Linked DNA regions of Homo sapiens: all the other regions are reported to be linked to region 1. Evidence: microRNA targets listed by miRTarBase, many of them from high-throughput screens and not tested one by one. Region 1 holds a microRNA gene; each other region holds the end of a gene's coding sequence.
The links. The annotated mature microRNA hsa-miR-5695 reads ACUCCAAGAAGAAUCUAGACAG and lies in region 1 at 1,281-1,302, shown strand. An mRNA with a match to its seed (bases 2 to 7 or 8) in the 3' UTR can be bound and repressed. Matches are read on the target gene's strand: a 7mer-m8 pairs with bases 2 to 8, a 7mer-A1 pairs with bases 2 to 7 and ends in A, and an 8mer does both.

Region 2: miRTarBase lists POLM as a target of hsa-miR-5695. The part of its 3' UTR that is shown has no 7-base or 8-base seed match.
Region 3: miRTarBase lists ZNF248 as a target of hsa-miR-5695. Seed matches in the 3' UTR shown: 7mer-A1 at 3,288-3,294.

Annotation. Positions count from the first base shown.
Region 1 is chr19:12,919,093-12,923,385 of GRCh38, forward strand. MIR5695 (microRNA 5695) reads left to right here and starts at 1,228; the gene lies at 1,228-1,312. It overlaps SYCE2 (synaptonemal complex central element protein 2), which reads right to left and starts at 201. Exons shown (of 6, transcript NM_001105578.2): 1 at 151-201. The coding sequence starts at 165. FARSA (phenylalanyl-tRNA synthetase subunit alpha) reads right to left here. Exons shown (of 13, transcript NM_004461.3): 13 at 3,387-3,794. The coding sequence ends at 3,656. RefSeq lists an enhancer at 1-20.
Region 2 is chr7:44,069,795-44,073,935 of GRCh38, forward strand. It overlaps POLM (DNA polymerase mu), which reads right to left. Exons shown (of 11, transcript NM_013284.4): 9 at 3,989-4,141; 10 at 3,831-3,914; 11 at 2,268-3,583. The coding sequence ends at 3,497. MIR6838 (microRNA 6838) reads right to left here and starts at 3,639; the gene lies at 3,584-3,639.
Region 3 is chr10:37,828,134-37,832,426 of GRCh38, reverse strand. ZNF248 (zinc finger protein 248) reads left to right here. Exons shown (of 6, transcript NM_021045.3): 6 at 1-3,664. The coding sequence ends at 812. Among named protein-coding and RNA genes, the nearest start is that of ZNF248, 27 kb to the left of the region's middle.

The sequences.
Region 1 (4,293 bases):
AAATTTGAGGCCAGGCCTGATGAGAGGGAGCCCCAATGGCAAAGGACAAGCGGCCGGGCTCGGGTCCGCTGGAGATGGCTGGGATCGCAGCCGTTCCCTGCCTATCTGTCCGCCCGCCCCACGCGCGAGAAGGAAACAAGCGCCGCGTACTCCCTGTCGCTCCATTCCGTATTTTCCCGCCTTCAAGCTCGCACCCTCTGCGCATGCGCCGACCCCGCCCCTGGCCAGCTGCGCTCCCGCGGACGAGTGTGTTGTGACGCGTGCTCCCGGCCCCGCCCTCTTTGAGAACTTGCGCGGCCAACTGGGCGGGGCCGACCGTTAAGCAGCAGTTTCGCGGTCCGCGGGCTGCGCGCGCAGTCGGCGCCCCTTGGGAGCAGGACGGCGCGCTCTGGGTGCGCTTGTGTGCCCCTGTGAGGCTCCTGGGTTCCACGGGGCGCCCAGGTTATACGGATCTCAGAGTCCTGTATTTATTCGGTGCTTCTAACTTCATCCACTCTGCCTTGGAAAATATACTCCATAACAATTTTTTTTTTTTTTTGAGACAAGATCTTGGTCTGTCGCCCAGGCTGGAGTGCAGTGGTGCGATCACAGCTCACTGTAGCCTCGACCTCCCAGGTTCAAGCGATCCTCCTGCCTCGGCCTCCTGAGTAGCAGTGTCATTCACCAGGCCCTTCTAATTTAAAAATATTTTTCTGGCCGGGCGCGGTGGCTCACGCCTGTAATCCCAGCACTTTGGGAGGCCGAGGCGGGTGGATCACCTGAGGTCATGAGTTCGAGACCAGCCTAGCCAACATGGTGAAACTGTCTCTACTAAAAATACAAAAAATAGCCGGGCGTGGTGGCGGGCGCCTATAGTCCCAGCTACTCGGGAGGCTGGGGCAGGAGAATTGCTTAAACCCAGGACGCAGAGGTTGCAGTGAGCTGAGATCATGCCACTGCACTCCAGCCGGGGTGACAGAGTAAAGCTCCGTCTCAAAAAAAAAAAAAAGATTGTATGTATATATACACACACACACACACACACACACACACATAATTATATTTTTTTTTCCTGTAGAAATGAGATCTCACTGTGCTGAGCCCAGGCTGATCCCCAACTCCTGGGCTCAAGCCGTCCTCCCGTCTTGGTCTCCCAAAGTGCTGTCTCAAAAAAAGAAGAAATTATCTGATCTACCCTATTGACTGTAGGTCATAAGACCCCCGTTTCAAAGAAGTTTCTGCCCCACACAAGGCCTATCTATCTAGATTCTTCTTGGCCTCTCTGAGCATGCATTCCTGAGACTCCAAGAAGAATCTAGACAGATAGGCCTTGCTGGGTTTCCCCACTCAGCCTATTAGTATTAGACGACCCCCCCGGCTTTTTTTTTTTTTTTTTTTTTTTGTCTTGCTCTGTTGTCCAGGCAACACTGGAGTGCAGTGGCAAGATCTCAACTCGCTGCAACCTTGGCCTCCCAGGTTCAAGCGATTCTCAGCCAACCAAGTAGCTGGGATTACAGATGCACCATGCCCAGCTAATTTTTGTATTTTTAGTAGAGATGGGGTTTTTCCATGTTGCTCAGGCTGGTCTCAAACTCCTGGCCTCAAGTGATCCACCCGCCTCAGCCTCCCAAAGTGTCAGGATTACAAGTATGAACCACGACAAACCCTTTTTGTCCAATCAAATTTCTACCTGGGTGTTCAAACTTTGCTGAACCTAAGCATAAGACACTTTTCATTAATCAGGCATGGTGGCGGGCACCTGTAATCCCAGCTGCTTGGGAAGCTGAGGCTGCTGTGAGCCAAGATCGCCCCTACACTCCAGCCCAGGGAACAGAGCCAGACTCCGTCTCAAAACAAAACAAAACAAAAACACAGTTTCCCCTGTATCTCTGGATCTTCATTCTGAAGGCTTGTCAGGTAACACTATGATCAAATACATTCGTATTCCTTTTCTCTTATTAATCTGCCTTTTCTCAGTAATTTTTAGTGAAACTTCAGAGGGCAATAAGGAAGCTTTCTCTTCACCCCTACACAGCCAAAGTTCAGATTTGATGGAAATGGCAAGATTCCAGGGTACTTGTGTTTATTTAGACACATAAATATGTATTTAACGACAGGGTCTCACTCTGTTGCCCAGGCTGGAGTGCAGTGGTGTAATCACGGCTCATTGCAGCCTCGACCTCCCAGGCTCAAGTGATCAACCTCAGTCTCTGGAGTACCTGGGATTACAGGCATGAGCCACTATGCTGAGCTAATTTTTGTTTTCTGTTTTTGGGGGACAGGTCTCACTCTGTGGCCCAGACTGGAGTGCAGTGGTGTGATCTCAGCTCCCTACAACCTCCACCTCCTGGGTTCAAGTGATTCTCCCACCTCAGCCTCCCAGATAGCTGGGACTACAGGTGCCTGCCATCATGCCTGCTAATTTTTGTTTTTTGTTTTTTTTTTTGGAACAGAGTCTTCTTCTGTCACCCAGGCTGTAGTGCAGTGGCACAATCTTGGCTCACTGCAACCTCCACCTCCTGGTTCAAACGATTCTCGTGCCTCAGCCTCCCGGGTAGCTGGGACTACAGGTGCTCACCACCACGCCCAGCTTTTTTTTTGTATTTTTAGTAGAGACGGGTTTTCACCACGTTGGCCAGGCTGCTCTCGAACTCCTGACCTCAAGTGATCTGCCTGCCTCAGCTTCCCAAAGTGTTGGAATTACAGGCGTGAGCCACCACGCCCAGCCTAATTTTTTTTTTTTTTTTTTTGAGACGGAGTCTTGCTCTATTGCCCAGGCTGGAGTGCAGTGGTGCGATCTCCGCTCACTGCAAGCTCCGCCTCCCAGGTTCACACCATTCTCCTGCCTCAGCCTCCTGAGTAGCTGGGACTACAGGCACCCGCCACCACGCCCGGCTAATTTTTTGTATTTTTAGTAGACAGGGTTTCACCATGTTGGCCAGGATGGTCTCAATCTCTTGACCTCATGATCCACACGCCTCAGCCTCCCAAAGTGCTGGGATTACAGGCATGAGCCACCGCACCCAGCCCTAATTTTTTTATTTTTAGTAGAGATGGGGTTTCACCACGTTGGCCAGGCTGCTCCTGAATTCCTGACCTCAAGTGACCCACCCACCTTGGCCTCCCAAAAGTTCTGGGATTACAGAAGTGAGCCACTGTGCCTGGCTCAGTACCCATACTTTTTTTTTTTTTTTTTGTATTTTTAGTAGAGACGGGGTTTCACCCTGTTAGCCAGGATGGTCTCGATCGCCTGGCCTCGTGACCCGCCCGCCTCAGCCTCCCAAAGTGCTGCGATTACAGACGCGGGCCACCTCGCCCAGCCCAGTACCCAGAATTTTGACCATCAAGTGGCACACTGAGCTAGGGGGACCCAACAAGACCCCTCACCCCTAAGGAAAGCCACCAGATGGGGGCAACTGCCCACTTTATTAGACAATAGGTGGCCCACAGGTCTCCTCAGGGCCCACCCTCACAGTAGACACACCACACAGGACAACAGAAGGAACCTGCTACCCAGTCCTCTGTCCCTGGGATTCTGGTCCTGGGACAGGTGGGAAAGAGGAAGGTGGGGGCTGGCCTCACAGAGGCCTCATAAATACAAGGTCACTGGCCAGGGATGCAAAGGAGCGCAGCAGCAGGGACTCGGGGAGGATGACCTGTCCTAGAGTGGCCCATGTCACGCAGCCTCCTGTGTGGGAGGGGGCCTCGGCTCGGCATCCAGGCGGCACAGGGGACTGTCATACACCATCTGCAGGTTCACCTTGTGGCCCACCAGCTCCCGGATATTGTTGATGCCATATTTGATCATCGTTGGGCTTGTGGGGGAGGGAACAGAGTTTATCATGAGGTCAGCACGTGCACCCTTCTGCTCAGATTTCCATGGCTCCCATCTTCTTCAGAGGAAAAGTTCAAGTTCTCCCCATGACCCACAGGGCCCTGCGCCAACTGCTCTATCACCTCTCACCCTCCGCCTTCAGCCACACCAGCCTCCTCACTCTTCTCCTAATACAAAAAGCACATTCCCACCTCTGGGCCTTTGAACTGACTGTGACCACTACCTGGGACACCCTTCCCCAGATACTCTCATGGTTTACCTCTTTATCTACCTCTAGATTTTGCTTAGGTGGCACTTCTTCCTCCATGATGCCTTCACTGACCACGTAGTTGCCTTAGCCCTCCCTATACCACTTACTGCCCTGGTACACACTTCTGTCTTCTTTTGCTGAGTGCATTTGTTTTTTTGAAACAGAGTCTCACTCTGTAACCTAGGGTGGAGTGCAGTGGCGTAATCTCAGCTCACTGCAACCTCCGCCT
Region 2 (4,141 bases), not on the chromosome of region 1:
TGTGTGTTGGGGGTGTGTGTGTGTGTGTATAGGGAGAAGGAGAGATAGGAGGGAAGGAAAAAAGGAAAGAAGAAACAGCAATGGAAAACAGGGAACAAACAGAAAACAACATAATGGTAGATCTAAAGCCAAACATTTCAATAGTTGCATTAAACATAAATGGCCTCATCACGCCAATTCGACATATTATCAGTTTGGATTATAAAAACCTAATTATATGCTGTCTTTAAGTAACTCACATTAAATATAACAGGATACAAGTAGGTTGAAGTAAAAGGTAACAACTCATTCTCTGAGGGCAGTATTACCCTGATACCAAACCCAGACAAACAACCTAAGGAAACTACAGACCAACCTCTTATGAGTACATATGCAAAAATTGAGAGTCCAGGGAAAAATCCTTCACACAATGGTTAATTGATTTTTGACAAGGGTGCCAAAATAATTCAATGAGTAAAGAATAGTATCTTTAACAAATGGTGCTGGGACAACTGGATTTCCACGTGCAAAACAATGAATCCCCACTTTACACTTATATAAAAATTAACTCAAGGCCGGGCACTGTGGCTCACACCTGTAATCCCAGCACTTTGGAAGGCCGAGGTGGGCAGATCACGAGGTCAGGAGATCCAGACCATCCTGGCTAACACGGTGAAACCCCGTCTCTACTAAAAATATAAAAAATTAGCCGGGCGTGGTGGTGGGTGCCTGCAGTCCCAGCTACTCGGGAGGCTGAGGCAGGAGAATGGTGTGAACCCGGGAGGCAGAGCTTGCAGTGAGCCGAGATCGCACCACTGCACTCCAGCCTGGGCGACAGAGCGAGACTCCGTCTCAAAAAAAAAAAATTAGCTGGGCTTGGTGGCTTGTGCCTGTAGTCCTAGCTACTTGGGAGGCTGAGGCAGGAGGATTGCTTGAGCACAGGAGTTTGAGACTGCAGTGAGCTATGATCATACTACTGCACTCCAGCCTGGGTGACAGAGCAAGACCCTGTTTCTGGGGAAAACAAAGAAACAAACTATAAAAGAAAGCAAAGAAAATCTTTGTGATTTGGGGTCAGAGATAGGACTCCAAAAACATAAGAAAAAAACTGGTAAACTGAATAAATTGATAAACTGGACTTCACAAAAATTAAATACATTTACTATGAAAAAAACAGTGCTAAAAGAAGAAAGATAGTCTACACACTGGGAAAAAATATTTACCAGTCACCATAGTGGCACATAAAGAACTCTCAAGATTGAACAGTAACAGATGGGCATGGTGGCTCATGCCTGTAATCCTAGCACTTTGGGTTTTGCCATGTTGGCCAGGCTGGTCTCGAACTCCTGACCTCAGGTGATCCACCCACCTTGGCATCCCAAAGTGCTGGGATTACAGGTGTGAGTCACCATGCCTGGCCAACAATTCCATTTTTAAAAATGAGACTTGAACAGCCACTTCACCAGTGAGGACATAGAAGCCAGTGAACAGATGTTCAACGTTATCAGGCATTAGGGAAATGAAAATAAAACCACAGTGAGCTACTGTTATGTACCTACTACTAGAAAAGCTAAAGTTAACAAATACTGCAACTATCAAGTGCTGACAGGGATACAGAGCAACTGCCTACTGTGGTGTTTAACTTACAGGGGTGCTCACAACGCTGGTGGACTGCAAAATGACAGACGCACTCGGGACAACAACTTGGCTCTTATGAAATAAACATATACTTACCAAATGACCCAGTAATCCTGTGCCTATTTACCCAAGAGAAATGAAGACCCATGTGTTACACGAAAACCTGTACATGCATGTCTGTAGCAGTACGATTCATCATCTCCAAACCCTGGAAACAACCCAGACTTTTTTTCTTTTTAGGCAGACTCTTGCTCTGTCGCCCAGGCTGGAGTGCAGTGGCACAATCTCAGCTCACTGCAACCTTGGCATCCCAGGTTCAAGCAATTCTTATGCCTCAGCCTCCCGTGTAGCTGGGAATACAGGTATGAGCCAACATGCCCAGCAAATTTTTGTATTTTTTGTAGAGATGGGGTTTCGCCATGGTGGCCAGGCTGGTCTCAAACTCCTGGCCTCAAGTGATCCACCCGTCTCAGCCTCCCAAAGTGCTAGGATTACAGGCATGAGCCACGGCATCCGGCCACAACCCAGACATTCAACACCTGAATGGATAAACTGTAGAACACCCATGGCATGGAACAAATTACAAACTCAACATACCCAGCAACCTGCAGGAACGTCAAAGGCATTAGGCTGTGGGGAGAGGCCAGTCCAAAGGTTAAATATAGTTTGGTTCTATTTACATGACATTCTAGAGAAAGCAAAACTATAGGGATGTAGCACCGCTAAGTGGGTGGGGGTGGAGAAGCACATGACCACAATAGGACAGCATGGGAAGTGTTCTGGGGATGGACCTGGTGTGCCCTACGTGTGCAAAAACTGCACCCCAAGAGTCAACTTTACTGCATGTTTTCAAAATATTTTTTAATGTGATGAGTGGTCTGGGAAATCCTCGCCTAACAAAGTGGCTTTTGATTCAAGGCCTGAAGAAGGGGAGGGCCCACTCCAGGTAGATGACATGGCCAGGGCAAAACCTGAGGCCAGAGTGTGCCTGGGGATATGAGGGACGTGGAGGGCACCCATGTCCAGCCCACCTCAGTGCTTCTGCCTCAGTGAGAAGGGGAGGGAGTTGGCCACAAGGGGGCCTGGGTGCATCAAATAGGAAGCCGGTGAGTCAAGCAGCTCGGGGCCAGTGGGGCTGGAGAGATGCCAGAGCCAGGGGCTATGTGTGGACTTAGGGTTTGGAACCATTAAAGGGCTCTGCGACGGGAGTGGCAGGATATGACCTATTTTTGAGACATTGTGCTGAGAACAGGCCTTAAAGGCAGAAGCACAGAGCCTGGCTCGGGGCGCTGCAGTACTGAAGCCCCATAGTTGAAAATTATCTTCCTCCCAGCTCCTACCCAGGCCCTCTCCCTCTCCAGATGCCTACAGCACACCAGACAGTAGGCTCCTTGCTGGCACGAACCACAGCCTCCAGCTCATGGCTCTCAAATGCAGTGCAGGTATGCATGGTTCTCTTCTGGGCATTCTGGGCAGGGTGCCCTGCAGGAGCCACAGTTAACTGCAGTGCAACTAATGAGACACTGCACATCAGGGACCACTTGCCATTCATGACTGCAGGCCCCACCACAGCTCCACGATGTGGGCCCCACTCACATCCCATCCAGGGCAGGAACGTGAGCCATGGGGAGGCTAAGAGCAGACCCAGGGTCACACAGTGATGAGGCTGGCACTGAGGGCTCCCACCTCATCACACCCTGCAGCACACCAGCAGGGGCTCAACTGATCCTGCAGGCACAATTGACCTCCGGAAGAGCCAGGCCTTGGCGGGGAGGGGTGAAGGTGGGGGTCAGGGGGCAGCATATCTGCCTGGAGACATTCAGTGGCCAGGTTGGGGGCAGCCCAATTTCCTGAGTGGAAGTGGGGGACACAGGCAGGCTCAGGCGTTTCTCTGCTCTGGAGGAAGGTACTCAAGGCCCAGGTGTCTGAAGATGTCTTCCTCTGAAGCCGCTTGGAAAAATGTCTTCTGCAACAGAAGCAGGACTTCCGTGACCTAGGAGTCTTGCCACTGCTGCTTCCCTGCAGGAAGACTGAGGGTGGGGAAGAGCCCAGCGCCGAGGTGGGGTGTGCTCTTGAGGGCCAGGAACTGTGTGTGGAGACCCAGATTCGGGTCCTATGGGTTTCAGGCTGGAGGGGTCTGGGGCCATTTCAGATTGTGGGTCAGGGAGCGGACTATGGGTGCTGTTTGCTGTCCCCAGTCCCCAACAATGTACCTGCTCCGGGTCAAACAGCCCATGGCTGTTCAGCCACAGGCCCTTCTCCTTCCGGCTGAAGCGGCGCAGCTCCCGCTGGAAAAGCTGTAGGGAAGGGATTGTCCTCAGCAGGGCTGGCCCAGCCCCACCCCCAGGCGGCCCAGCGGCACACTGCCTACCTTGGAGCCAGTCCAACCGAGCAGGGCGAAAGGGAACTGGCTGACGGGTGCAACTACCAAGTCCACTCTCACGGCCTTCCAGGATGGGCAGGGCCTCGTGGATCCCCCCACAGCAGCCCCTGGAGGTTGTGGTAGGCGGAAAATGCAGAAACT
Region 3 (4,293 bases), not on the chromosome of region 1:
CAGCTTTCATTATCCATCAGGGAGCTTACACAAGAAAGATTCTCCGTGAATATAAAGTGAGTGACAAAACCTGGGAAAAGTCAGCTCTCTTAAAACATCAAATAGTACACATGGGGGGAAAGTCTTATGATTACAATGAAAATGGGAGTAATTTCAGCAAGAAGTCACATCTTACCCAGCTTCGGAGAGCTCACACAGGAGAAAAAACCTTTGAATGTGGTGAATGTGGGAAAACCTTCTGGGAGAAGTCAAACCTCACTCAACATCAGAGAACACACACAGGAGAGAAGCCCTATGAATGTACTGAATGTGGGAAAGCCTTTTGCCAGAAACCACACCTGACCAACCATCAGCGAACACATACAGGAGAAAAACCCTATGAATGTAAGCAATGTGGAAAAACATTCTGTGTGAAGTCAAACCTCACTGAACATCAGAGAACACACACAGGGGAGAAGCCCTATGAATGTAATGCATGTGGGAAATCCTTCTGCCACAGATCAGCCCTCACTGTGCATCAGAGAACACACACAGGGGAGAAACCGTTTATATGTAATGAATGTGGAAAATCCTTCTGTGTGAAGTCAAACCTCATTGTACATCAAAGAACTCACACTGGGGAGAAACCATATAAGTGTAATGAATGTGGGAAAACCTTCTGTGAAAAATCAGCTCTCACTAAACATCAGAGGACTCACACAGGGGAGAAGCCGTATGAGTGTAATGCATGTGGGAAGACCTTTAGTCAGAGGTCAGTGCTCACCAAACATCAGAGAATTCACACAAGGGTGAAAGCTCTTTCAACATCCTGAATGTTAGAAGCCTTCATACACTTGTGAAATTGGTTATACAGTTTCAAAAAAGGAGATCAGAGAAAGCCAAAGAATGTCAGAAATTTGTAGAAAATGACTTCTTGTTTGAATATGTAAAAGCTTTCAAGAAAAATTAAAACTTTTCATTAGAAAATTTGTACTGAGGGGAATTCTATTCATCTAAGTAATATGGTGAAAATATTTATCTGGAATTTATGTTGTTTAGTGTTATATTCCAGACGTGATACCAAAATTTTGTTGCAAATATAATGGACAATATTTATTTATACCCATATTCACAGTGGAATCTGAAGCTTATAAAAGTTGAATGACAGCAGCATTAAACATATATGTGAAGAGTCCCCGATGTTTGTAGACCTTATGTGAGTATGCAAATATATAAATTTGAGTATGCTTGATTTGTATATTGGAACTCAACATGATCATAAGGAGAAGATACGTACCCTTAATTGAGTAACTACTATGGTATTTGTTAATATTTTCTACACTAAATACCATTGGTGTCTTTATAGGTTGACATAATTATATATGTGTATGTACATATGTTTGTGTGTATATGTAAATATATTTCTACACACATACTTAAATATAGTGATGTGCTAGTATAACCTCATACTGACTTAAAAGTTCTGATTGTTAAATTTTAAGGAATTTTGTGAGCCAGTTATTAAAAGCAGTCATTATTTAAAATATGTAAACTTACAGTTAAAAACAAAGGTAATAAATACTCAGCACTCATCACTTCCTAATTATTTTGCTACATTTCACTATTACCTTTGCTGTTTTACTTATTTAATCTGTATGATGAAAATACTGTATAATAGTGTGCACTGCACATCTGTCTCTTCCCAGCTCCACATTCAGTGCTGTCTTGGTAGCTTGGACTTAGTGGGAGTGTTTACACCATGGAAATTGACAAACTATAAATCAGGGTTTTAATTTTCTCAGAGAACCTGCTGTCAAATATTTACAGCACATCACTGTGTATATATGAAAACGTATTTGGCAATACAAACCACATACCCCTTCTATTTCCTGACATAAATAAATGGCTATGGCCATTTACAGCTGAACCACGTCTTCAAGAAAGAAGCCAAAAATATTTCCGTGAGGTTTTTAACTACCTCTGAATCTGTCCTACTCTAAATACTACCGGAGTCTCTTTGTAGGTTGGCCAGTATATGTTTTTAGTGAAATATTATTTCACAAAGAACTATATCACGTACCTTTCCTCTGACTGTTTCCTGGCATATATGCATGAATATGGCCATTATTGAACTATCACTTCAGTAAAGAAGTTAAACAGTACTTTTCTGAGGTTTTTCAGCTACCTCTGGGTCATTCTGTAATGTAAATGTTGTTAATAAGAATGGTTTTTACATAAATTATGCAAAGGTTAACAAGCAGTAACACTGCACTCCTCAAAAAGTGGCGGTATGTAATGAAAGGCCCTTTTGATATCCTTGATTTTTCATTGTGTATCTGTTTGGGCACGGTCTATGTAACACTAGTTCTGCGTATTAGTATTTTAGAGTATCTCTGCCTCCCTTGTCCTGTTGTTTCTTTTGCCCCCTTGGAACACATTGGTCAGCAGTTCTAAGAGACACTGCCCACATGATGGCCATTCCCTACTTCATCCTTGCTGAGCTAAATTTTATATTTTTGTGCATCCTTCTCCCAGATGACTTAGGTGGTAAGTCCAGATTAGTCAAAGCTAATCATGGAAGTTCCATTTTAATGATTCTGTTGGGGTGAACTTGGGAGCAATGAGATGTTTGGGAAGTATTGTGTAGTACTTCTGGGAAAGATCTCCTTGATACAACATTGTCATGACATGAGAAGAGACTCTGCTGGGCTTTTTCATGTCTGTAACATGGTATTGGCTTATCGTTTTTATCTCTGAAGGGCAGTAGCCTGAAGATAACAGTGCACAAGGTGGGAAAAGCCAGCTCAGAGGTGACGTTGCCGAGCTACTCTGCTCTCTATACCTGTTCTCTACTGGGACTTTTTATAACCCTCAATAACTGTTTTTTATTTGGTCTTAGGGCTGTCTGATACTTAGAGCTGAAGGCATTCCAGCTGACACAGAGGAATATTTTTCTAAGTGTTAATGTTCTATATGGTAATTAGGGGGAAGAATTATTTCTTTTCACAAGTTAATATAGGGATGGCTGTTTGTATCAGCCATGGTTCTTTCTGGTGGAAAACAGAATTCTCCAACTAAAAATATTTTAATGGCAGACTGATTACAGTGGTGTGGGCCAGAAACAAGGGACAGTGAAACACCCAGAGACTTGTATCAGCAGGAAGCCATTGCCATTCTGAGCCTTGAAGGGCAAGGAGGGAAACAGTGTTACCAGAGCCCAGTAAGAACTGCTGTCATGAAGGAGGGGCCACCTTGTAAGAGACATCATTACTACCAGAACTGTGGTGCCAAATTGCTGGTGTCTCTCTTTGGAGAAACCAACCAGATACATCTGCTGGAGAGCCCAGGTGGGCACAGAGAAGGGTGGAGAGAGAATCTGGGAAGAGAAATGGAGAATAAGCAGCACAGTGTTATTCATTTCTGTAAATTCCTATGTAGAAGGCTCAGTGTTAGAAATAAAGTTATTCTACTAGTTGCAAGTTAAGTGTTTCTGTTTGTTCTGCTTTCCTGTTAGCATAAGTAAACTCCCTTTGGAACTACACAGGTATGTCTCTCCTTCAACATGTGTGAAGCAGACATTATATTAAATTACATTATTCATACCTCCCTGTGGTGTTTCTTATTGTATGTGGTGTAAGGTAAGCAGCTCTGTATTCTTCCAAATAAATAGCCAGTTGTCCCTGCACTGTTTGATTAATTCACCCTTTCTTGTGTTAGTTTGATACATTTTTATTATGTACTTAAATATGTGTTATGACTATTGCTTTTGACTGCTCAATGCAACTTTTCTGCATTCTTCTAGTAATAGAACATGTCATTGTGATCACGGGGTGGCATTTACCCCAATCCTGGCTCTGCAGAGTACTGTGTCTTCATGTCCTCCACATTTGTATTGATCCAGAAATGATAGTTTGTTGTAAAATAGGCCAGTGACAAGCCCTCCTAGAATATTTTTATTGGGAGGTCACTGTAGACCAGAGAGTTTGTGTCCTTATTGCTTCCAGCAGTCATATTGAGAAAGTACATTTGCTCTGTAATCTATTGAAAGTCAGTCCACAACACAAAAATGAAAAAAGAAAAGAAGATGGCTATGATAAGCGCCATAAAGAAAAATCAAAATAGGAAAAGTTGTCAGATACAAGGTTTGATTTTAGATAGGATGGAGAGGAAAAGACCTCACTGAGCAGGCTACATTGAGGGAGGAGTGATGTGGATAAGATCTCGAAGAAGAGTGTGTTCACATGTGTGTATCTAACACATGCATGTAAACCAACAAATTCTGTTTCGTGAGACCCTTACCCTAATTACCTGTAA